Linked DNA regions of Homo sapiens: all the other regions are linked to region 1. The links come from fine-mapping of genetic effects on plasma protein levels. A gene starts in region 1. Each other region holds a variant in brackets. All regions are shown on one strand. Distances are from middle to middle.

Region 1 (8,256 bases):
TGATCAGCTCAATCCTGATGACGGCTCTGATTCAAGACTCTGATAAGTCCTGCAGCAAGGATAACAAGAAGTCTTTGTTTCCTGGAATTATCAAACCACTGTGACCGAAGAAACTGGTGTCTCATGGAACACACTTGGGAAACGTGGTCCACGCTTTTTGGGAAATGTGGTCATGAGGCTGCATTAGCAAGACCCAGACTGATAAGATCTGGGGTGAAGGAGAAAAAACAGAGGTTTGCAATGAAACAACTCAGCATTCAATGAGTGCGGCAAGCACACATTACTCAGCGGGAGAAGGAGGAAGAGAGTAATTCTGCTGTCTGCCACTCTACCCTGGACCTACAGCAAGAAAAGCAAAGGACTGTGGGGATGGAGATGCTACCCTTTGCTCCCCAGGCTGGGAAGGGCACTTGACTGGAGCTGGAGCTGGCTGAGAAGGAGAGGGGCCCAGTCCTTACCCCAAGGATGGCTCTGCTATCTGCGCGTCGGCTGTCGGTGCTGAGGCTGGCCCGCGTCTGCCTGTGCAGGATCCTGGCATTCCTTTTGCTCCATGGACGCTGCCTCCCTACAAGGAAGCGAGAGCTGCCGTCAGCAGGCACATGTGTGACTGTCGCAGTTACCTGCCACACCGCCAGCACTTCCTGAGAGCCTGCTTGGTAGCAGGCCCTTGGCTGGGCTCTGGGGTGACAAAAGAGGTTTTTTTTGTATAGTGGTGCAATCTCGGTTCACTGCAACCTCCGCCTCCCGCATTCAAGTGATTCTCCTGCCTCAGCCTCTCGAGTAGATGGGATTTCAGGTGCGCACCACCAAGCCTGGCTAATTTTTTGTATTTTTAGTAGAGACAGCGTTTCCCCATGTTAGCCAGGCTGCTCTCAAACTCCTAACCTCCAGGGATCTGCCCGCCTCGGCCTCCCAAAGTATTGGGATTACAGGCATGAGCCACCGCGCCTGGCAGACAAAAGAGGTTCTGACAGAGCACCTCCCTCCAGAACCTGGTCTACTGAGGAGGTGCCAAGTCAGTAGCGACGGTCTGAGAGCTCAGAGCTCTGCTGCGGGGGAGCCAGGAGAAGCACTAGACCCAGACTAGTGGGGTCAGGGAAGGCTTTCTGGAGGAGGAGTTGTCTGAGTTGACTCCTAAGAGTAGGAGCTGGAAAAAGAGCATTCCAGGCAGGAGGAACAGCACATGTTTACCTGGAGGAGAGAGTACATGGCATCTGGAGAAGGCTTGCGGGCTCGGCATGGCGAGATCCAGAGCCAGAGAGGGGAAGTGGCAAGAGATGAGCCACAGTGGGGTGGCTGGGTCAGGCAGAGACCAGCCAGTGCCCAGACTCCAACTTAAACACCAAATCCACCCATCATCTCCGACAGTCAACCAGCCTCTGGTGAGCATCTACTCCATATGCGCCAGACACTGTGCAGAACTGTGCATGGGAGTGGCAGGGTAGGGAAAGCTGTGATCACTACGACACGGGTTTCGGGGAGCCAGGAGCTGGGAGAGTGGCCCAGCCACCAGAGAGAGCCAAAGGATCAGCAGGAGTTACCCAGGAAGGAGGAGGGCGGGGGTAGACAAAGACACCTGGACTGATCTAGGAGGGATGGCTGTTTTTCCATCATTTCTACCACTGGGTATTTACTATATTGACTAAGTTCCAGGCCCTGTGCTGGGAGGGCAGACATGGAAGATGGTCTCCGCCGTCATGGGAGGTAGGTCAATAACCCTGCAATTCCATACGGGGTGGTGGTGACTAGGCAGTAAAGTACCTACAGCTATATAGGCACGGAGGCCATCCAAGCCAACCTCTACCTCACTCTACCCTCCTTGTCAAGGATGGGGCACCCACTGAGGCTGGGTGGTCCAATCACCTGCCCATGGCAGAGCCAGGTCCAGAACTTGGGCCCCTGGACTCCCTGTCACTAATTATTCTAGTCCCTCCTCTTCCAGAAAGCATACCCTGACCACCCCCTACATAACCACCCAGAGCTAATTCCTTCTTCCTCTGGGCTGCCTCTGTAATATTTCTATTAATATGGTGGCCACAGTATATCAGAACTTATGTGTCTTCTGGTTTGCCTGTCCTCCCAGACTGCAGCTCTCAGGAGGCCAGGGATGTTTTCCCAGCCATCCCAGGCCCAAGACAGGCACTTTCTAAAGAATGGCTGAATGAATGAATGAATGAATGAATGAGTCAAGGCATGGAGAGACACTGTGCTGGGCTCTAAGAGCCCCACATCCATCCCACCTGAATCTCCAAGAGGTCTTGGCCCATCAGTGTGTGCCTCAGTTTCTCCATGTGAAAACCTGGAATCAGCTCTACTCTAAGACGAGGCAGTCAGGAACCAGGCTGATTTCCCTCCAACTCCTACAGGCAAGGTCCAGGCCAAGCCAGGCAGCAACCCAGGGTCCGGCCACTTCCCTGAGTTCTGACCCACGGCAGTGATCCCCAGGATTCCCTACAGTCCAGAAAGGTCATTCAAGAGTTTGCAAAGGAAACGGCTTCCTGGTGGGTGTGCCTAAGGGATGGAGAACCACCACATCTAGTCAAGTTCTGGGGGGAAGTCATGAACATTTCCTGTGCCCCCGCTCTGTTTTTTTTTTTGTTTTTTTGAGATGGAATTTTGCTCTTCTTGCCCAAGCTGGAGTGCAATGGCGCGATCTTGGCTCACTGCAACCTCTGCCTGCTGGGTTCAAGCAATTCTCCTGCCTCAGCCTCCCGAATAGCTGGGATTACGGGTGCGCAGCCCCATGCCTGGCTAATTTTTTGTATTTTTAGTAGAGACAAGGTTTCACTATGTTGGCCAGGCTGGTCTCGAACTCCTGACCTCGTGATCTGCCCGCTTCAGCCTCCCAACGTGCTGGGATTACAGGCGTGAGCCACCACGCCCGGCCCTGCACCCCCTGCTCTGTACCCTATGGTCCCTAGAACGCAGAGGGCATCAGACCCCATGCCAAAGCCCTGAGACCAGGAAAACAAGGAAGCAGAGACCAGCCACCCAGTCACTCATCCCTGGCATGTCCACAACAGCCTCCTCCAGCACAGGTCATCTGTCCTTGCCTCACTTCATGAGCCAGAGGAAGACTTGACCTTCATGGAAGCAACACCAGTGAGACTGAGCAATCAGCACTGCCCAGTCTCTCTGAACAAACTCCCACTCCCACATCCCCTCCACAGGAAGTATCAGCAACAGCCGATCTCCTCCCGCTTCTTACAGCCTGTCTGTCTGCCAGGTTGTCTGCTCCAAAGGGCAGAATACAGTTTGGCAGGGGTTAAGAGTACTACTAACAGAAGAGGTGGAAGAGGTCCTTGGGAACTTCGGGCTCCCCCAGTTCCCTTCCTCTTACCAGGTGCTCTCCCTCCACACCTCATTCTCAAAAGGCTTCCTGAGGTAGGGCAGGGGAAGAGGAGTCAGTGGAAGTGTGGCTCACCCAGGAACCGCCCACCCTTCCAGCCAAGTCTCCATCAGGAGGCGGCTACCAGACAACCCCCGACCCATCCCTCCTTCCCAAAAAAGGCAACAATCGCAACAGCTGAGAACCGGCAGACCTCGGTTCACCCCGGTCCAGATCAAGGGGAAGAAGCAGTCAGCGAAAGCAGCAGAATCATCATGAACTCCATGACCCCAGCTATGCCCCTTCAGCCTGGGAGCTCAGTTTGCTGGGTATCCAGCTCACCTAGGGCTGCACCAGGCCTGGACCTCACTGGATCTCGCCTCGCCCTCGGGCCCACCTGAATGCACAGGACTGGGACAGGGTCTGGGTTCTTAGATTCCGGACCGGTCTTCCCAAATATCCCATCCCAGAAAGGCCCCAAGAGCCTAGCCGGGGATCCTGCCCCCAAGTCAGGGCACTGCCCCCATCGGAACGATAGGAAGGAGGGGTGCAAGGGAAGAGAAGGGGACCAGGAACTCAGGAGAAGACAGCTAAGGAAATCTTTGAAAAAGAAATGGCAAGGAGAGAGCCCAGAGGTGGAACCTCTAGGAACGGGAGAGTGTGTGTGGAGGGGTGAGGATCTGGGGGGACCCAGGGGATGACAAGGGGACATGGGGGAGCCGAGGCGGAAACTCCTGGTTTCTGAAGCACAAGGAGGCACAGGGGTGCCTGGGAGGGGGCTCGCGCGCCGCGGAGCCGGCGAGAAGGTGGTGCCCCGGAGACTCCGGGCACTGGGGAGCCCAGAGGTAGGCCGAACACCGCGGGAGGTCCCCAGGGGGCCGGCCCGGAGACAGAGCCCCAGATGCCCCGGGCGCCCCGGGCCGGGCAGCTGGCCGAGGGCGTGTGTAAGTGGGTTTCGAGAGGTGACAGCTCGCGCCCCTTTCCCCACCCCGTCCACTCACCTGGGCTCGCCGCGCCCGGCCGCCCGGCAGGCAGCCCCAGGCCCCGGCCGCTCCGTCCCGCCGCCGGCCGCAGCGCTGCTCCGGCGCCTCCTTTTGTTTGTCCCTCACTGCACCACTCAGCCTCCTCCGCCCCGGAAGTGACGTCACCGCCGGGCGCGAACGCGGCGGCCAGGGCGTCGCCATCTTTATGAGGAGAATTCTAGCGGCGCTTTCTCCCGCTCTCGCCTCCGCGCTAGCGCCCTGCTGCTTCGGGGCGGAAGTAGCGGAGCCGGGCTCGGCCCCCTTAAAGGGACAGGGACTGCTGCAACCTACGGGGTGTACTTGGGAACGAGGGGTGAAGCGGCCCAGGTGAGGGTGAGTAGCTGTGTCGGAGCGCCACTTCCCCAAGGTCAGGTGCCGAGGCTGGGAGGGTCGGCTAACGGTTCCGAGCTTGGTTGTGCTAGAGTGCTTAATGAGTTTGATGCTACTAAGTATAACGGAGTGGCTGCACAGAATGATTGAGCCGCCCGCGGGAATCAACTGCGCGTGCTGCTCGCTGATTCTCGCTCGGACACTGGGGCTGGTCCTGTCTGCACCCAAATCCCCCTCCCACGACCGCGCCGGTGGAGATGATACCCGAGACAACAGAATTCTGGACAGATCTGGGGTTGGAATTGGGTCCCCAGACTCCAACTCTGCAGCTCCATAAATCCCGCTGGGTCCTCGCAAATTCCCTGGCTGATAACAGTACCGGCAACCAAATTAAAAAATAATCCATACAGTGGAATACTGTGCAGCCATTAAGACGAACAATGTTTAATATGCACTAATGTAGGGTGACTTCTAAGATACCTTAGGTTAAAAAAGGAAACAACAGTAAAAACAGCGTTGGGCCGGTTGCGGTGGCTCACGTCTGTAATCCCAGCACTTTGGGAGGCCGAGGCGGGCGGATCACGAGGTCAGGAGATCGAGACCATCCTGGCTAACTTGGTGAAACCTCATCTCTACTAAAAATACAAAAAAATCAGCCGGGCGTGGTGGTGGGCGCCTGTAGTCCCAGCTACTCTGGAGGCTGAGGCAGGAGAATGGCATGAACTCGGGAGGTGGAGCTTGCAGTGAGCCGAGATCGCGCCGCTGCACTCCAGCCTGGGCGACAGAGCGAGACTCCGTCTAAAAAAAGAAAAAACAGCGTTGATGGGTGCTATCCATCTTTGCGTAGAAGGACGCCTGAGGGTGGGCGTATCTGCGGGTGTGCGCGCCAGCTGTCTGATAAGATGCACAAGAAGTTGTTAATTGCGGTTGTCTCCGACAGAATTGGGGTCTTGGGTACCTGGGCCAGGGCGAGAAATTTACTACCATGTGCACAGATAGATAATTAAAAATAAGATGATGAAGATAGTCGTGGCTCCCATCCATCACGTGTTAAGCCAATGCCTAGTTTCACTTCTGTTGGGAGGTCTTATTTTTCCCTTTTAATAGAAGAGAAAAGAACCTTAGAGAGGTTAGGAAACTTAGCAATATCATAGCCAGGGCCGGGCGCGGTGGTTCACACCTGTAATCCCAGCACTTTGGGAGGCTGAGGCGGGCGGATCACGAGGTCAGTAGATCGAGACCATCCTGGCTAACACGGTGAAACCCCGTCTCTACTAAAAATACAAAAAAATTAGCCGGGTGTGGTGGCGAGCGCCTGTGGTCCCAGCTACTCGGGAGGCTGAGGCAGGAGAATGGCATGAACCTGGGAGGCAGAGCTTGCAGTGAGCTGAGATTGGGCCACTGCACTTCAGCCTGGGCAACAGAGCAAGACTCCGTCTAAAAAAAAAAAAAAATCATAGCCAGGAAGTGGAGAAGCTGGAATTTGAACCCTGGGAGATTTACACTAATGCCCATGATCTAGCTTATCCCTCGCCACTGAGATGCTTTTTCTGTTGTCAGTCACGCAACACCCGTCTTGGGGCCTGGCACACAACAGGCATCCAGTAACTATTTATTGACATGATGTGTGGTGTGAAAAGCAAACGTTGAAGGTCAGAGCCCAGGCTTAAAGTCCAGGGCTTGGGCACCTCTTTCCAACCTGTGGACTGTGGGCCTGCCAGGTACTCCGTGGGCCTCCATGTCCCCGCCTGTAAAATGAACAACCAGAACCACAGTTGTAGACAGTGAATGTTCCCACGTATTATACTTTGTATTTTACACGCAGATAAGTCTCATTTTACAGATAAGTGAGGCACAGAGAGATTAAGAAAGTTGCCAGAAGGGGGTTCCTACAGGTCTCCCTCCCTCCCTAGGAAGGCTGCTGGGCTCCCAGGCCTCTCCCTTAGCTTCCCAGGATCATCTGTGCTAATGCCTGGGGGACCTACTCTGTGCTGGGTGAGCTGCCAGAGGCTGAGGATCTGGTGGAGAACAGGTCAAGCACATAGTTCCTGTCCTTGGAGTTGAGCGCCCCCGTGCTGAGTACTTTGAGGGCGGAAGCCCAGGTCTTGGGACCACCTGGGAGGGGACATGTGGCTTAGCCTGGGTGGAGTCAGAAGGGGCTTCTCCAAGGAAGGGACTTTCAATGTGACTGGAAACTAGGATGTCCAGAAGGAGAAATGATGAGGCTGGAGACTCAAGGAGAGATGGGCTCCTACCCTGGACTTGGCCTTGGTGTCCACTAAGAAACTGAGGGTGACCAACAGGATTGGAGAATATACAAGTTAGACCCATTCAGTCTGGCTTCAGCAGGAATCTTTCCTCCCGGAGAATGCCTCCATTAGGTGCCAACCACCAGAACGCCACACTAACCTCTCCAAGCTCCAAAGAGTAGGGCGCCTGATTTTATAATCCAGGTGGGGGCGATAAAGGAATGCAGGAGCCTTCACAGCCATGAGGCAGTCACTGTAACTCCTGCCAGAACAGACCTGGGGCCACATCCCACTCCTGGATGGCACTGCCAGTTCCCTGCATAATTCCTTTTTTTTTTTTTGAGACGGAGTCTCACTCTGTCGCCCAGGCTGGAGTGCAGTGGTGCAATCTCGGCTCACTGCAAGCTCCACCTCCCGGGTTCACTCCATTCTCCTGCCTCAGCCTCCCAAGTAGCTGGGACTACAGGCACCCGCCACCACGCCTGGCTAATTTTTTGTATTTTTAGTAGAGACGGGGTTTCACCGTGTTAGCCAGGATGGTCTCTATCTCCTGACCTTGTGATCCGCCCACCTCGGCCTCCCAAAGTGCTGGGATTACAGGCGTGAGCCACCGCGCCCGGCCTCCCGGCATAATTTTTAAAATGCTCATCCTATGCCCTCATTCCCCAGCTTGCAGCTGGGGGCCTCCTGGTGCTTTTCTGGGACTTCGAGTAAGTCATTTCCCCTCTCTAAGCCTCAGTTTCCCCACCTGTAAAGCTGATGCCACCTCCTCCAAGGCTCCCGCGAGGCTATCTGCCTATCTGTTGTGTGTTCCTTTAATGTATGGGAGTGAGATTGTGGTTTTTGAATCTGGGTCCTGTGCCAGGAGGAATAAGTGGTGAGATACCTACTGTTTGTGTCACTCAGGTCTTCCACCAACCCCTCCAGCCTGTAAACCTGCCGTCTGGACTCCAGAAGTCATTTCTCTCTCCTCTGCCAATTCCTAAGCCCAGGGGGACTGTGTCTGAGTGACGCAATTGTTAGATCTCCTCAGACAGGCTGTTCTCTCCAGGAAAACATTGGCTCAACAAATTGTCACCAAACATTTGTCTTCAGGGAATTCTGTTTTTTTTCTATCAAAAAAAATTTGGATTCATTATATAATAAGAGATTTTTCATTTTGCTTGGTTACTAATTTTATGGAAAGCCTGGTAGGTTTAAATGTTAATAGCTTGTTGACTGGGTGTGGTGGTTCATGCCTATAATCCCAGTAATTTGGAAGGCTGAGGTGGGACTATCGCTTGAGCTCAGGAGTTCGAGACCAACCTGGGCAACGTGGTAAAACCCC
Region 2 (8,000 bases), 570 kb after region 1:
AATTAGACAGGTGTGGTGGCACATGCCTATAATCCCAGGTTCTCAGGAGGCTGAGGCAGGAGAATTGCTTGAACCCGGGAGTCGGAGGTTGCGGTGAGCTTAGGTTGTGCCATTGCACTCTAGCCTGGACAATAAGAGTGAAACTGTCTCAAAAAAAAAAAAAAATTAGCCAGGTGGGGTGGCATATGCCTGTAGTTCCAGCTACTCGGGAGGTTGAGGTGGGAGAATCACTTGAGCCCAGGAGTTCAGAGGCTGCAGTGAGCCGAGACTGTGCCAGTGCACTCCAGCCTGGGTGACAGAGTGAGACTCTGTCTCCAAAAAAAATAAAGAGGCTGAGGTGGGCGGATCACGAGGTCAGGAAATCGAGACCATCCTGGCTAATACGGTGATACCCTGTCTCTACTAAAAATACAAAGAAATTAGCCGGGCGTGGTGGTGGGCGCCTGTAGTCCCAGCTACTCCAGAGGCTGAGGCAGGAGAATGGCGTGAACCCAGGAGGCGGAGCTTGCAGTGAGCGGAGATCGTGCCACTGCACTCCAGCCTGGGCGACACAGCGAGACTCAGTCTCAAAAAAAAAAAAAGTGGCCAGGTGTGGTGGCTCACGCCTGTAATCGCTGCACTTTGGGAGGCCAAGGTGGGCGGATCACTTGAGGTCAGGAGTTCAAGACATGGCAAAGCCCCGTCTCTAGTAAAAATTAGCTGGGCATGATAGCACGTACCTGTAATCCCAGCTACTCAGGAGGCTGAGTTACGAGGAGTCGCACGAACCTGGGAGGCAGAGGTTGTGGTGAGCCATGATCGTGCCACTGCACTCCAGCCTGGGTGAAAGAGTGAGACTCTGCCTCAAAAAAAAAAAAAAAAGGTATATGGGACGACATGCCTAGGTTATATGCAAATACTATGCCATTTTATATCAGGGACTTGAACATCTACAAATTTTGGTATCTGCAAGGGATCCTGGACCCAATCCCCTTGGATACCAAGGGACAACTGTAGTATTCTATTTATTTAGAGACAGGGTCTCACTCTGTCACCCAGGCTGGAGGGCAGTGGTGAGATCTCGGCTCACTGAAACCTCTGCCTCCTGAGTTCAAGCAGTCTTCTCACCTAAGCCTCCCGAGTAGCTGGGACTACAGGCACAGGCCACTATGCCTGGCTAATTTTTTTTTTTTTTTTGAGACGGAGTCATGCTCTGTTGCCCAGGCTGGAGTGCAGTGGCACGATCTCGGCTCACTGCAAGCTTCTCCTCCTGGGTTCACGCCATTCTCCTGCCTCAGCCTCCCGAGTAGCTGGGACTACAGGCGCCCGCCACCACGCCCAGCTAATTTTTTGTATTTTTAGTAGAGACGGGGTTTCACCATGTTAGGCAGGATAGTCTCGATCTCCTGACCTCGTGATCCACCCGCCTCGGCCTCCCAAAGTGCTGGGATTACAGGTGTGAGCCACCACGCCCGGCCATGCCTGGCTAATTTTTGTATTTTTTGTAGAGATGGGGTTTTGTCACGTTGCCCATGCTAGTATTGAACTCCTGGGCTCAAGTGATCTGCCTGCCTCGGCGTCTCAAAGTGCTGGGATTATAAGCGTGAGCCCTTGCAACTGGTCTCTTGATTTATTTTGAACCACTGAAAAATGCAAAAACCATTCTTAACTCATAGGCCACAAAAAACAAGCCAGATGCGGTGGCTCATTCATGTAATCCCAGCACTTTGGGAGGCCGAGGCAGGCGGATCACTTGAGGTCAAGAGTTCAAGACCAGCCTGGCCAACATGATGAAACTCCGTCTCTACTAAAAATACAAAAAATTAGCTAGGTATGGAGGCAGGTGCCTGTAATCCTAGCTACTCAGGAGGCTGAGGCATGAGAATCGCTTGAATCTGGGAGGTGGAGGTTGCAGTGAGTTGAGATGGCGCCACTGCACTCCAGCCTGGGTGACAAAGTGAGACTCCATCTCAAAACAAAACAAAACAAAACAAGCAAACACACACACACAAAAAAAAAACAGTCTTCAGTCTTCAGGTTTGACTTGTGGACTGTAGTTTGCTGACCCTTTTTCTATTCTGGGACTCCAGGTGAGAAATGAGACCCTAGGTAGAAGTCCTAAGGTAGGGGTTTTGGGTTTCTGGGAAAGAATAAGTTTATTTATTTATTTATTTGACAGAGTCTTGCTCTGTTGCCCAGGCTGGAGTCTGGAGTGCAGTGGTGTGATCTCAGCTCACTGCAACCTCCATCTCCCAGGTTCAAGCTATTCTCTTGCCTCAGCCTCCCAAGTAGCTGGGATTACAGGTGTGTGCCACCACACCCAGCTAATTTTTGTATTTTTAGTAGAGATGGGGTTTCACCATGTTGGCCAGGCTGGTCTCGAACTCCTGACCTCAGGTGATCCGCCCACCTTGGCCTCCCAAAGTGCTGGGATTACAGGTGTGAGCCACTGCGCCCAGCCGAAAGAGTGATTTTTTTACTGAATAAAGTTGCCCAACAATGGAACTGGTTCTGGTAATGTGTCCCCATCACTAGATGTGATTAAGGCATGTGTCAGGGAATCTAGAGGTTTGACCAGAAACCTCAAAAACCCGTTGGACTTGTGATATTCAATGACTCTATTATATGGTAACAATAAGAAGTATAATGTATTGAGTCGCCACTCTGTACTAGGCATTGTGTTAAGCTTCCCCCAAGTACAATCCTCATTGATATCACCACAGTGCTGTGAGATGGGTCCTATTTTCATTTCACAAGGGAGAAAACTGAGGCTCAGTGTTGACATTTAGTAACATGGCCTGGATTCAATAGGCCCTTAACTACCCTGGACTCTTCCCCTAGATTCCTCTTAATCTGTAGAAGTGTAAACACTTCTGGCTCATTCCTGCATTTATTCTTTCAGTAGTTCTTTCCTGAGCAGCTAGTGAGTTGACACACCCAGGTTCTGCCTTAAGGAGCTCACAGCCTCCATTTTCCTCCAGGGACTCTTCCTCAGTAGAGCTGGGCAGGGAACCCCGCACTCTTGACCTTCAGTGTTACGCCAGTCTTCTTAGAGCCTCTCACTGGGAGACTGATGATAGGCAGAGTAAGAGGCATCTTGGGCTGCCCTTTGGATCCCAGGGCACTGAGGATACAGTTCAGGGTCCCAGATTCCATGACGGGGAAGCCTGAGAGTCTGGCCTGATGCTAGTTTGGGCTCCATGAGGCCCATTCTGAGAACGAGGTCAACATGCAGCCCAAAGCCATCCTGGGGTGGCATTTAGTTGAGAAAATGGACCTTGTTTGTTTCTTTCCAGTATGTGGACCAGCATTCGCCCATCTCAAGGTTGGCGTGGGACATCGGTTGGATGCCCAGGCTTCTGGAGTACTTGGTAGGTGATGTGAGAAGCCTGGGGGTACAGTGATAAGGCTTGAGAAAAGATCCTGAAGCTACCAGGAGCCCAGCCCACTTCTTACCTGGCACCCACGTCCCACCACTCCTCTCCTGCCCTGATTCCTGCCCCAAGGCTGATCAGCTGGGGAGTGGATAGGTGGGACGGAGGTAATCACAGGTTAATACCACAGTCACCCACCTTTATTCAGTGATTCCCACACATGACATAGTTCGAGGCCCTTTATGCACATTTATTTACCACAACAACTTTATTAGGTAGATACTATATGATTTTATGGAAGAAGAAAGTAGGATTTAGGTGACTTGTTCTGGGTCCCATGGCCAGTGAATACCCCTGGTCCGGAGAAGGAAAACCATCATTGCATCATGGGGCAGCCAGGCGCGTGACTCTGGACCTAATGGCCAGGGCCTGCATGTGGCTGGGTCTGGACACACAAAGCCCTAGTCATGAGCCATCTGTGTCCCCAGGGTCAGGTGGTGCCCACATCCTCCAGCCGCGACAGTCACAGTCCCCTTGTCTTGCTTCCTGAGGCACAGGCAGGCAGACATGATCTCATGCCCCCTCTCCCTGTTCTGTCTCCCCACGAGTGAATGCAGAGTTATTCTGTCCCTCAGCCAGAGGGAGAAACAGACCGGGAGAAAGGCAGGAAGTGACCACAGTGGCCACCGTTTATTGGGCCCTTCCTCTGTGCCGACTGCACAGCACCCACAGGAATCAGTATTTTTTTTTTTTCCTGAGACAGAGTCTTGCTCTGTCTCCCAGGCTGGAGTGCAATGGCATGATCTCGGCTCACTGGAACCTCCGCCTCCTGGGTTCAAGCAATTCTCCCTGCCTTAGCCTCCCGAGTAGGTGGGATTACAGGTGCCCGCCACCACGCCTGGCTAATTTTTTTTTTTTTTTTTTGTGAGACGGAGTCTCACTCTTGTTGCCCAAGCTGGAGTGTAGTGTAGCACCACACCTGGTTAATTTTGTATTTTTTGGTAGAGATGGGGTTTCACCATGTTGGCCAAGCTGGTCTCAAACTCCTGACCTCAGGTGATCCACCTGCCTCGGCCTCCCAAAGTTCTGGGATTACAGGCATGAGCCACTGCGCCTGGCCTTCAGACAGTATTTTTACCCCCATTTTACTGATGGGGAACTTGACGCTCAAAGAGGCTAAAGATTATACTCAGAGCTGTCCCTGATTTGAGTGCAGGTTTGTGTGACTAGGCCAGGGATCTCTTCCTCTCAGGTGTCAGAATCCTGTGGAGAGCTTGGCAGGGATCCTAGGCCCCCTCCAACCATGAGTCAGATTCAGTGCATATGGGTAAGGCCCAGCAATCTGCATGTGATATATACCCAGAGGGGTGCACCTGCCCCCTGTAGAAGATCTTTTTGCCTTCTTGTTGCCTTTGGCAGCATCAGAAAAGGGAGTATTCTGATGGTGGGGGTAGGGGTGGGGATACTTAGGGGAATGGGAAGGGGGTCCCAGGTGTGAGATGACGCTGGCTGCTTTTCAGTGCTCGGCGTGGGACATGGATGCAGGCTCCTCACCGATATGTACAATGCTCATCTTACCAAGGTACGAGGGTCTGGGGACAGCCTGCTTCTCCCTTGGTCCTTTCCTGGGGGTCACCAGCAGGATTCTGAAGCTTAGAGGATTCCGTGGGGGAACACCCAAGCCATAAGCAAGCATTTTTTTGATGATCGTGTGCTGTGCAGGGGCTGTAATAATAATAACAATAATAACTACCAGTGTTAGTGTATGCCGACTACTCTGTGCTGAGCACTGTACGTGGATTCCTTTAGGGAAGCCTCACAGCCTCCCTGTAAAGTGGAATCTGTTGTTAGCCACATTTCACAGATGAGAGAACTGAGGCTCAGAGAGGAGATGTTACTTACCTAGGTCATGTAGTTGTTAGGGCTTTAAGAGCTGGGATTTGAACCTAGGTCTCTCCAACACCAGAGCTTGATCATGATGCCATTCCCTATTCTGTCCCAAGACTGAGAGGTAGATGTCAGCATCCTACCCACAGGGAGCTTACCATCCAGAGGTGGGGTCGGGGCTATGGAGTCTGATACCACAAAGTATGTACGCAGGTGCCACGTTATGGGGCCCATGTTTTTAGTGGTTAAGGGCACAAATTCTGGAGCCAAATGGCTTCAGTTTGAACCCCAGCTTCTACCACTCTGACAGCTGTGTGTCCTTGGGTAGATTACCTAATTAATATCTGTGTGCCTCAGTTTCCTCATCTGTAAAATGGGAATGAGGGCCAGGTGTGGTGACTCATACCTGTAATCCCAGTACTTTGGGAGGCTGAGGCAGGAGGATTGCTTGAGCCCAGGAATTTGAGACCAGTCTGGGCAACATAGCAAGACTCCATCTCTATTTACAAAATTTTTTTAAATTATAAAAATTTTAAAAATTGTGGCCGGGCTCAGTGGCTCCTGCCACTTTGGGAGGCTGAGGTGGGTGGGTCACTTGAGGCCAGGAGTTCAAGACCAGCCTGGACAACATGGTGAAAACCTGTCTCTACTAAAAATACAAAAAAATTAGCCAGGCTGGTGGCGCATGCCTGTCCTCCCAGCTACTCGACGATCCACCCGCCTCTGTCTCCCAAAGTGCTGGGATTATACGTGTGAGTCACTGTATCCAGCCAATCATTACTTATCTGTGGCAGATGGGGTTAGCTGCACAGATTCAGAGGAGGGGGAGTTTTTACAAGCAGGGATGAGCAAGGGCCTGATCTGGGCCATGGAATCTCATTCTATTTAGAGGCGTGGAGAGAAGCCTACAGGGCATGCTAGAAGGGGCTCGGGGTGATAAATTGCCGAGTTAGGTTGGAGAGGAGAAACATGGAGGCCTGGGGTGGCCACAGGGTGGCTGTCAGCGGTCAGTACCTTTGGAGGCTGCCAGTGCTGGTTGTCATGGAAACCAGCCAGCAGTCTTGTAGGAAGCCTGCTGACTGGGAGCCAGGTACCATGTCCTGCTGAATCCAGGCAGCAGTACTGTGAGACTGGCCCTGTTACTGTCCCCAGGTGACAGGAGAGCTTGAATACAAAGAGAGCAAGAGCTGCTGAAGGCCACATGACAGAGCTGGTGCCCTTCCTCCTGGGGCTGTGGAGCAGCTGGGCAGGGGCTGGGCACATGAGCTTCCTGAGGGAGACCTGAGGACCCCCCACCCCCAGCTTCTGGGGCAGGGGCTACTAGGGCTTAGAATGGGGTCACTGACGGATCTTTACCTCCCTGTCCTTGAAGGATTACACAGTGCGTGGCCTCCTGGGCAAAGCTACAGATGACTTCCGTGAGGACGGGAGGCTGGTAGAGAAGACAACCTATGGTGAGAACCGGAAGTGGCTGCCGCTGCCTCCCTCCGCATTTGCTTTCCCTGAGTCCTCTCCCCGCCCTAGGCCACGCTGGCCCCTTCTCAGTTCCACTGCACACACTAGGCTTGGGCTGAGGCTTTGGCCACGGGATCTGTGCTCCAGGAGCATCCT[C/G]TACTCCCCTGCTTGCCTAGCTCAAATGTAACGTCACTTCCAAAGACTCTAGTTTCTCTCCATCTCGTCAGTCTTTGACCTTTTCCTTTTCTTTTCTTTTTTTTTTTTTTTTTTTGAGACGGAGTCTCGCTCTGTCGCCCAGGCTGGAGTGCAGTGGCACGATCTCAGCTCGCTGCAAGCACCACCTCCCGGGTTCACGCCATTCTCCTGCCTCAGCCTCCCTAGTAGCTGGGACTACAGGCGCCCGCCACCACGCCCGGCTTTTTTTTTTTTGTATTTTTAGTAGAGATGGGAGACGGGGTTTCACCATGTTAGCCAAGATGGTCTGGATCTCCTGACCTCATGATCCGCCCTCCTTGGCCTCCCAAAGTGCTGGGATTACAGGCATGAGCCACCGCGCCCAGCCTTTCCTTTTCTTTTCTTTTTTTTTTTTTGAAACGATGTCTCGCTCTGTCGCCCAGGCTGGAGTGCAGTGGCGCGATCTTGGCTTACTGCAACCTCCACCTCCCAGGTTCAAGCAATTCTCCTGCCTCAGCCTTCGGAGTAGCTGAGATTACAGGTGCACACCACCACACCCAGCTAATGTTTTGTATTTTTAGTAGAAATTGGGTTTCACCCTGTTGGCCAGTCTGGTCTGGAACTCCTGACCTCAGGTATTCTGCCCACCTCGGCCTCCCAAAGTGCTGGGATTACAGGTGTGAGTCACCACGCCTGGCTACTGTTCTAAATTTTAAAAAGAGGCCGGGCGCAGTGGCTCACGCCTGTAATCCCAGCACTTTGGGAGGTCGAGATGGGTGGATCACAAGGTCAGGAGTTTGAGACCAGCCTGGCTGATATGGTAAAACCCGTCTCTAGTAAAAATACAAAAATTAGCCGGGCGTGGTGGCAGGCACCTGTAGTCCCAGCTACTCAGGAGGCTGAGGCAGGAGAATCGCTTGAACCTGGGAGGCGGAGGTTGCAGTGAGCTGAGATTGCACCACTGCACTCCAGCCTGGCAACAAAGCGAGACTCCGTCTCAAAAAAAAAAAAAAAAAATAATAATAATACAAAAAATTAGCCGGGCATGGTAGTGCACGCCTATAATCCCAGGTACTCGGGAGGCTGAGGCAGGAGAATCGTTTGAACCTAGGAGGTGAAGTTTGCAGTTTG
Region 3 (8,256 bases), 45 kb after region 1:
GTGCAGGGGCGCAATCTCGGCTCACTGCAACCTCCCCCTCCCAGGTTCAAGAGATTCTCCTGCCTCAGCCTCCCGAGTAGCTGGGACTATAGGGGTGCGCCCCCACGCCCAGCTAATTTTTGTTTTGTTTTTTTTTTAAGACAGTCTCGCACTGTCGCCCCGGCTGGAGTCTGGAGTGCAGCGGCACGATCTCGGCTCACTGCAACCTCCGCCTCCGCCTCCGCCTCCGCCTCCTGGGTTCAAGCCATTCTCCTGCCTCAGCCTCTTGAGTAGTTGGGATTACAGGCGCCCGCCACCATGCCCAGCTAATTTTTGTATTTTTAGTAGAGACGGGGTTTCACCATGTTGGCCAGGCTGGTCTCAAACTCCCGACCTCGTGATTCGCCTGCCTCGGCCTCCCAAAGTGCTGGGATTACAGGCGTGAGCCACCGCACCTGGCCATTTTTTGTATTTTTAGTGGATACTGGGTTTCACCATGTTAGTCCGGTTGGTCTCGATCTCTTGACCTCGTGATCCACCCACCTCAGCCTCCCAGAGTGCTGGGATTACAGGCGTGAGCCACCGCACCCGACCGCACTCGTTCTTTTTAATGGCTGCATACTGTTCTGTTGCCTGGATGTGCCATAATTTATTTAAGCAGTTCTGCACTGATGGACTGCTTCTGCTATCTCAATATCATAAGCAATGCCACAGCAAATATCCCTGTGTGGACATCTTTGTATACATATGTATTTCTCTAAGATAAATTCCTGGAGGTAAAACTAGCAAAAGAAAGACTATAAATATTTATAAATACAATAGGTGGATATTGTTAAGAAACAGTGTGTGCCTATAATCCCAGCTACTTGGGAGTCTGAGGCAGGAAGATTGTTTGAGCCCAGGAGTTTGAGGCCAGTGCAACATAGTGAGATCCTGTCTGAAAAATAAACAAACAACTAAGTAAATAATTGCCCTCCAGTAAGGTTTACTCATTTACATCCCTGCCAATAGGCTGGTCTCAGAGCTGGTTGGAAAGTTCCTTCTTTGATCCAAAAAAAAAAAAAATCATTTGGGTATGTATCTTTTTCTTTTCTTTCTTTCTTTCTTTTTTTTTTCTTTTAACTAGAGACAAAAGCTGGGTATGGTGGCTCACGCCTATAATCCCAGCATTCTGGGAGGCTAAGGCTGGCAGATCACCTGAGGTCAGGAGTTCAAGACCAGCCTGCCCAACATGGTGAGATCCCATCTCTAATAAAAATTAGCTGGGCGTGGTGGTGGGTGCCTGTAATCCCAACTACTTGGGAGGCTGAGGCACAAGAATCGCTTGAACCCGGGAGGCGGAGGTTGCAGTGGGCCGAGGTGGTGCCATTGCACTCCAGCCTGGGTGACAACAACAACAACAACAACAAAATAGAGACAGGGTCTCCTTATGTTACCCAGGCTGGTCTCAAACTCCTGGGCTCAAGCAATCCTCCCACCTTAGCCTCCCAAAGTGCTGGGTTACAGGCATGAGCCACTGTGCCCAGCCTCATTAAATATTTTACCTCTTTCTTGTATGTTGCAATATTTTTCTCTTCCTGTTTTGACCTTGCTCATGGTGCCTTTTATTTTTATTTAATTAATTAATTTATTGTCTAAGACAGAGTCTCAGTTTTATTACCCAGACTGGTGTGATCATAACTCACTTCAGCCTTGATCTCCTGGGCTCAAGCAATCCTCCTGCCTCAGCCTCCCGAGTACCTGGGACTACAGGCACGTGATACTACACCTGGATAATTTTTTTGATTTTCCATCAGTAGAGACAGAGTCCCTCTGTGTTGCCCAGGCTGTTCTCAAACTCCTGGCCTCAAGCAACCCTCCCGCCTCATACTCCCAAATGCTAGGATTACAGGCGTGAGCCACGGTGCCTGGCCTGTGCCTCTTGTTGTACAGAAAATTTTTATATTTGTGTGGCCAAATCTGGTTTAGTGAGTTACTGAGTTGAGTTCTAGATAAAGTTTCAATCACTTGGCTTAGCCTTGAGTATTTTTGTTTTGTTTTGTTTGTTTTTGTTTTTTTTGAGACGGAGTCTCGCTCTGTCGCCCAGGCTGGAGTGCAGTGGCGCGATCTCGGCTCACTGCAAGCTCCGCCTCCCGGGTTCACGCCATTCTTCTGCCTCAGCCTCCCGAGTAGAGCTGGGACTACAGGTGCCCGCCACCATGCCAGCTAATTTTTTGTATTTTTAGTAGAGACGGGGTTTCACCTTGAGTATTTTATAAGTGTCCTCAGCAAACAAGTTTCTGGATCTAATCTTCCTCTCAAAAAGGGGTGCTTACAAAGCTGCAACATGAGGTTCCTGACTGTCAACTGTGTGTGACTTTAGACAAGTAATTTCTTCTCTCTGGGTCTCTATTTTTCTACCTGTCAAATAGTGGGCATCAGGCCAGGCACGGTGGCTCACATCTGTAATCCCAGCACTTTGGGAGGCCAAAGCAGGCAGATTACCCAAGGTCAGAAGTTCGAAACCAGTCTGGCCAACATGGTGAAACCCCGTCTCCACTAAAAATACAAAAATTAACCAGGCATGGTGGTGCGTGCCTGTAGTCCCAGCTACTTGGGAGGCTGAGGCAGGAGAATCACTTGAACCCAGGAGGCGGAGGTTGCAGGGAGCCGCGATTGTGCCACTGCACTCCAGCCTGGGTGACATGAGTGAGACCCTGTCTCAAAATAAATAAATAAATAAATAAATAAATAAATAAATAAATAAAAGCCTCTCCCGCAAAGCTGCTGGGAGGATCAAGTGGGCACAAACATGCTTCTTAAACTTACAGATGTGGAAAGTGGGGAGTTTCTACTGCCTTGTGGGCTCTTGGACTGAGGTTCATGGAGGCAAGCACTTCCTCTGGTTCTCTGCTAAATCCCCGCCCTGGGCTTCGGGCCTGGCACAGAACAGGCCCTGTGGCAAATGCTGGTGGAGGAGATGGAAGAGCTTAGCACTGGATATCTGAGTCAGTGCAGGCCTGGTGGTTGGCACCCTGGAGTCTGGGACCATATAGATTGTGTGACCTTTACCTCCCAGAGTACACAGGATCACAATAGCACCTGCCTCTGGGTTGTTGAGAGGATGAGATCAAAGAAATCCCACAAATAGCTTGGTGTGTAGAGGAATCCAGAGTGTTGAAAGCTGATCTATTCCACGTCCCCTGGGGCCCAGGCTACCAGTACCTGACTTTGCCCCCAGGCCTGCTGCTGGAAGGTGCTAGAATTGCCTGGATACAGCTGGGCCGGAGGATGGGCCCAGGCTGAGCTGGACAGTTAACCCCTGCTGTCCTGGCAGGGTTACCCACCACTGACGAAGATCCTGGCAAGTTTCTTTGGGGAGCTGCTGGGTCAGGAGATAGACCCGCTCAGGAATGTGCTGGTGACTGTTGGTGGCTATGGGGCCCTGTTCACAGCCTTCCAGGCCCTGGTGGACGAAGGAGACGAGGTGAGTGGGCAAGACTTGGGCTGAGTGGGACTGAGAGGTCAGGGCCATGCTGACTCCAGCTGATTTGACCCTTATATCAGGTCATC[A/G]TCATCGAACCCTTTTTTGACTGCTACGAGCCCATGACAATGATGGCAGGGGGTCGTCCTGTGTTTGTGTCCCTGAAGCCGGTAAGGATGCTAGGTAGAGGATGGATGGGCAGAGGGATCCAAGGCGTGGGCTGAGTTGGACCCTGGGAGTTGGAAAAGGAGGAAAGAAGTGAAGGAAGCCAGTTCCTCTAAGCTGGGAGGGCAGAGGGGAGGTGTGTGTGTTGGGATCCCAGGGGAGAGAAGGTGGGGATAGATGCTGGGGAAGACCTGCATGTCAGGTGGTTAAGTGGTACCACCCCATGCCACCTGCTCTTGCAGGGTCCCATCCAGAATGGAGAACTGGGTTCCAGCAGCAACTGGCAGCTGGACCCCATGGAGCTGGCCGGCAAATTCACATCACGCACCAAAGCCCTGGTCCTCAACACCCCCAACAACCCCCTGGGCAAGGTACTGGAGGGACCTCCTTCCCTGGCCCCCTGCGGACCTGGTCATGTCTCCTGCACTGTTACTGAGTTGCTGCTGTGGGGCCTCCGTTTCTTCGTTTGTGTGTGGGAGGGCCACACACAATGAGCACTGAGGACCAAGACTCCAGAGGTCCCAGGACAGGGGCAAGAATCCCCAGGGAAGGCCTGAGGGCTGGGACAGTGAACTGGGCTGGGAGCCACCATCACTTCCCAGTGACCCTGGAATAGTGACTATGCCTCTCGAAGTATCTCATCTGTAATGTGGGAACCTGAGGGAACTGACCTCATGGTCAGTGTTGCAGGGATCCAATGTGATGGTGCAGAACAGCCCTTAGCACTGGGCTTGGCTGTATTCGCCATTTATTTATTTTTTTGAGACGGAGTCTCGCTCTGTCTCCCAGGCTGGAGTGCAGTGGTGTGATCTTGGCTCATTGCAACCTCTGCCTCCTGGGTTCAAGCAATTCTCCTGCCTCAGCCTCCCGAGTAGCTGGGATTACAGGCACCCGCCACCATGCCCAGCTAATTTTTGTGTTTTTAGTAGAGACGGGGTTTCTCCATGTTGGCCAGGCTGGTCTTAAACTCCTGACCTCCAGTGTTCCGCCCGCCTCGGCCTCCCAAAGTGCTAGGATTACAGGCGTGAGCCACCGCACCTGGCCGCAGCTGTGTTCTTTAACCTCTCTGAGTAGGCCTCTGTGTTTGGGGACGGTCCCAGCTGCAGGTCTGTGCTCTCCTTGGGCATCTGCAGGTGTTCTCCAGGGAAGAGCTGGAGCTGGTGGCCAGCCTTTGCCAGCAGCATGACGTGGTGTGTATCACTGATGAAGTCTACCAGTGGATGGTCTACGACGGGCACCAGCACATCAGCATTGGTGAGCCAAGCCAGCCTGGGGCCCCTCCCCTGCACATTGGTGGGAGGGCCTTGACCCCACCTGAGAGTCAGCGCAGGCCTGGTAGTTAGAACCCAGGGTTATGGAGCCCTGCAGATCCTGTGACCTTTGCCTCCCAGAGTACACAGTGTCACAGTAGCACCTGCCTCCCTGGTTGTCGAAAGGATGAGGTCAAAGAAATCCTATGCCGAGCATGGTGGGTCACACCTGTAATCCCAGCACTTTGGGAGGCTGAGGCTGGCAGATCACTTGAGGTCAGGAGTTTGAGACCAGCCTGGCCAACATGGTGAAACCCTGTCTGTACTAAAAGTACAAAAATTAGCTGGGCATGGTGGCACGTGCCTGTAGTCCCAGCTACTCAGGAAGCTGAGGTAGGAGGATCACTGGAACCTGGGAGGCGGAGGTTGCAGTGAGGCAAGATGGCGCCATTGCATTCCTGCCTGGGCAACAGAGCGAGACTCCATCTCAAAAAAAAAAAAAACAAAGAAAGAAATGGGGGGTGGAGGGAGGGAGGGAGAGAGAGAGAGAGAGAAAGAAGGAAGGAAGGAAAGGAAAGGAAGAAAGAAAGAAAAAAAATTGTGCAAATAACTTAGTATGTAGAGGAATCCAGGGTGTCAAAAGCCTATGCGTGTCCCCTGGGGCCCAGACCACCATCCTCCCCCGTCCCCCTCACCCCAGTCTCAGCAGCTGTTCTGTTCGGCCTTGGGCAGCCAGCCTCCCTGGCATGTGGGAACGGACCCTGACCATCGGCAGCGCCGGCAAGACCTTCAGCGCCACTGGCTGGAAGGTGAGTTGCTGAGGGTGGGAGGTCACCACCCCCTGCAAGATCCTTGGCAAGTGAGGTGGGCCTGAGAATGAAGAAGGCTTTAGCCAGGTCTGGAAGGACCTCTCCCCCTACCTGCGCCCCTGCTGCAGGTGGGCTGGGTCCTGGGTCCAGATCACATCATGAAGCACCTGCGGACCGTGCACCAGAACTCCGTCTTCCACTGCCCCACGCAGAGCCAGGTGAAGAGGGGCAGGACGTCACGGGGGAGTGGGGGGACAACAAAAGAGCCCAGGCTGGCCCCCGCGTCAGGGAACAGCTGATCTATCTGTGTGTCCATCTGCCCTGCCCAGGCTGCAGTAGCCGAGAGCTTTGAACGGGAGCAGCTGCTCTTCCGCCAACCCAGCAGCTACTTTGTGCAGTTCCCGCAGGCCATGCAGCGCTGCCGTGACCACATGATACGTAGCCTACAGTCAGTGGGCCTGAAGCCCATCATCCCTCAGGGCAGCTACTTCCTCATCACAGACATCTCAGACTTCAGTGAGTGAGACTTGCCGGTCTGGGCAGGGCGCAGGGGCTGGAGGCTGCAGGGGGCTCAGTGTGGCCTCTGTCTCCCAGAGAGGAAGATGCCTGACTTGCCTGGAGCTGTGGATGAGCCCTATGACAGACGCTTCGTCAAGTGGATGATCAAGAACAAGGTGGGCTGGGCCTCTGCCAGGCAGCCATGTATGGTTTCACAGGTTGTGTGCTGCTCAAGGGTGCCCAGGCAAGAGGCTCCTGGGCTAGATCTTAGTCCAGCCTCTGCCGTCAACCTTGGGGCAGGGTTGTATCCACTTCAGAGAATGAGGAGGCTGTTTCTTTTTTTCTTTCTTTTTTTTTTTTGGTTGAGATGGAGTCTCACTCTTGCCCAGGCTGGAGTGCAGTGGCGCGATCTTGGCTCACTGCAAGCTCTGCCCCCCAGGTTCACGCCATTCTCCTGCCTCAGCCTCCCGAGTAGCTGGGACCACAGGCTACTTTTTTTTGCCCGGCTAATTTTTTTTGTATTTTTGGTAGAGACGGGGTTTCACCATGTTAGCCAGGTTGGTCTTGATCTCCTGACCTTGTAATCCACCTGCCTCGGCCTCCCAAAGTGCTGGGATTACAGGCGTGAGCCACTGCTCCTGGCCTTTTTTTTTTTTTTTTTTTTTTTGAGACAGAGTCTCACTCTGTCGCCTAGGTGGGAGTGCAGTGGCGCAATCTCAGCACACTGCAACCTCCACCTCCAGGGTTCAAGCGATTCTCCTCCCTTAGCCTCCTGAGTAGTTGGGTAACTGGGATTACAGGCATGTACAACCACGCCTGGCTAATTTTTGTATTTTTAGTAGAGACGGGGTTTCACCATGTTGGTCAGGCTAGTCTCCAACTCCTGACCTCAGATGATCCACTCCCCTTGGCCTCCCAAAGTGCTGGGATTACAGGCGTGAGCCACCGTGCCTGGCCTGAGGAACCTGTTTCTAACTTGCACAGAGATGCTGTGTGGGCTGGCAGGATTTCCTGCCTCTTTGGATCTCCATCTTCCCATCTGTACAGTGAGGAGTTGGCCCATTAACTCTTGAGTTCATCCAGGTTTGATCTGTGACTCTAAGGCTTTGTTCTTCTCTGGCTCTGCCCTGACCTGCTCCATGATCCTCCCTCTGTCAGCCTCCCTCTGCCCTCTATACCCAGGGAGGGACTTGGAATGATGTTCTGGGATTCTTTTCTTCTGACTTTGTGTTTGTTTTTGTTTTGGATGGATTTTCTCTCTTTCGCCCAGGCTGCGGTGAAGTGGCGCAATCTGGCTCACTGCAACCTCCACCCCCGGGTTCAAGCAATTCTCCTGCCTCAGCCTCCCAAGTAGCTGGGATTACAGGCATGCGCCACCACACCCGGCCAATTTTTGTATTTTTGGTAGAGACGGGGTTTAGCCATGTTGGCCAGGCTGGTCTTGAACTCCTGACCTCAGGTGATCCACCCGTCTCAGCCTCCCAAAGTGCTGGGATTATAGGCGTGAGCCACCGCACCTGGCCTTGTTCCTCTGACTTTGATGCAGCTCTAGGTGCTGGATTGGAGCTAACTCTCCTTCCCCGCCTGGTCGTGGGAACCTCTCTGTCCCCTCCGGAGCCAAGGCCTGCTGGGCCACGAGGCCGTGTTGAGACATGTCCTTCCTCCTCCCCAGGGCTTGGTGGCCATCCCTGTCTCCATCTTCTATAGTGTGCCACATCAGAAGCACTTTGACCACTATATCCGCTTCTGTTTTGTGAAGGTAAAGGGCAGGGCTGGGGGAGGAAAGACCTCACAGAGCTTCCCAAGGCCGGCTGGGCACATGGGGAGAGTGTAGGACTAATCTGTGCTGGCGCAGGATGAAGCCACGCTCCAGGCCATGGACGAGAAGCTGCGGAAGTGGAAGGTGGAACTCTAGCCCTGAAGTCACGCCTTGGCCCTGACATCCCCACATGCCCGCAGAGATCCTCTTTGAGTGTCTGTCTTTGTCCAGGTTTCAGACATTTCTAGGTTGGGGAAGATGCTATTGGGAAACCTCTTCTCCGTGACACAGAATGTTCTGGGTGGGAGCCGCCCTTCTTCATCTTAGAGAACC

Direction of the effects. Positions count from the first base shown, and alleles are read on the strand shown. Strength reflects both the effect of a copy and how common the allele is.
For the plasma level of the protein whose gene starts at base 4,630 in region 1, allele C in region 2 goes with a higher level than allele G (weak association).
With allele A in place of G in region 3, the plasma level of the protein whose gene starts at base 4,630 in region 1 is higher (moderate association).

The links. PIP is the chance, under the fine-mapping model, that this variant and not a neighbour inherited with it causes the effect. Protein levels are from antibody-based Olink assays in UK Biobank. Linkage for the fine-mapping came from a reference panel and not from the study's own genotypes, which makes the PIPs less certain.
Region 2: its variant is fine-mapped to the plasma level of the KYAT1 protein (UK Biobank, PIP above 0.99).
Region 3: its variant is fine-mapped to the plasma level of the KYAT1 protein (UK Biobank, PIP above 0.99). The variant lies in the coding sequence of KYAT1. If it changes the protein, the assay may bind it differently, which can mimic a change of level.

Annotation. Positions count from the first base shown.
Region 1 is chr9:128,878,324-128,886,579 of GRCh38, reverse strand. It overlaps KYAT1 (kynurenine aminotransferase 1), which reads left to right and starts at 4,630. Exons shown (of 13, transcript NM_004059.5): 1 at 4,630-4,683. It overlaps KYAT1-SPOUT1 (KYAT1-SPOUT1 readthrough), which reads left to right and starts at 4,630. Exons shown (of 25, transcript NR_182311.1): 1 at 4,630-4,683. It overlaps LRRC8A (leucine rich repeat containing 8 VRAC subunit A), which reads right to left and starts at 4,447. Exons shown (of 4, transcript NM_019594.4): 1 at 4,330-4,447; 2 at 459-565. RefSeq lists enhancers at 372-1,134, 4,411-4,560 and a silencer at 4,101-4,380.
Region 2 is chr9:128,312,502-128,320,501 of GRCh38, reverse strand. It overlaps TRUB2 (TruB pseudouridine synthase family member 2), which reads left to right. Exons shown (of 8, transcript NM_015679.3): 3 at 3,276-3,350; 4 at 4,874-4,935; 5 at 6,613-6,694. It overlaps LOC105376286 (a long non-coding RNA gene), which reads right to left and starts at 6,951. Exons shown (of 3, transcript XR_930377.3): 1 at 6,597-6,951; 2 at 6,255-6,404; 3 at 3,603-5,078. The variant C/G (reference allele first, on the strand shown) is at 6,852.
Region 3 is chr9:128,833,407-128,841,662 of GRCh38, reverse strand. KYAT1-SPOUT1 (KYAT1-SPOUT1 readthrough) reads left to right here. Exons shown (of 25, transcript NR_182311.1): 4 at 3,296-3,445; 5 at 3,526-3,612; 6 at 3,850-3,978; 7 at 4,741-4,861; 8 at 5,590-5,666; 9 at 5,795-5,884; 10 at 5,996-6,182; 11 at 6,261-6,340; 12 at 7,837-7,923; 13 at 8,020-8,256. KYAT1 (kynurenine aminotransferase 1) reads left to right here. Exons shown (of 13, transcript NM_004059.5): 4 at 3,296-3,445; 5 at 3,526-3,612; 6 at 3,850-3,978; 7 at 4,741-4,861; 8 at 5,590-5,666; 9 at 5,795-5,884; 10 at 5,996-6,182; 11 at 6,261-6,340; 12 at 7,837-7,923; 13 at 8,020-8,256. The coding sequence ends at 8,079. Among named protein-coding and RNA genes, the nearest start is that of SPOUT1, 7.7 kb to the right of the region's middle. RefSeq lists an enhancer at 2,831-3,331. The variant A/G (reference allele first, on the strand shown) is at 3,532.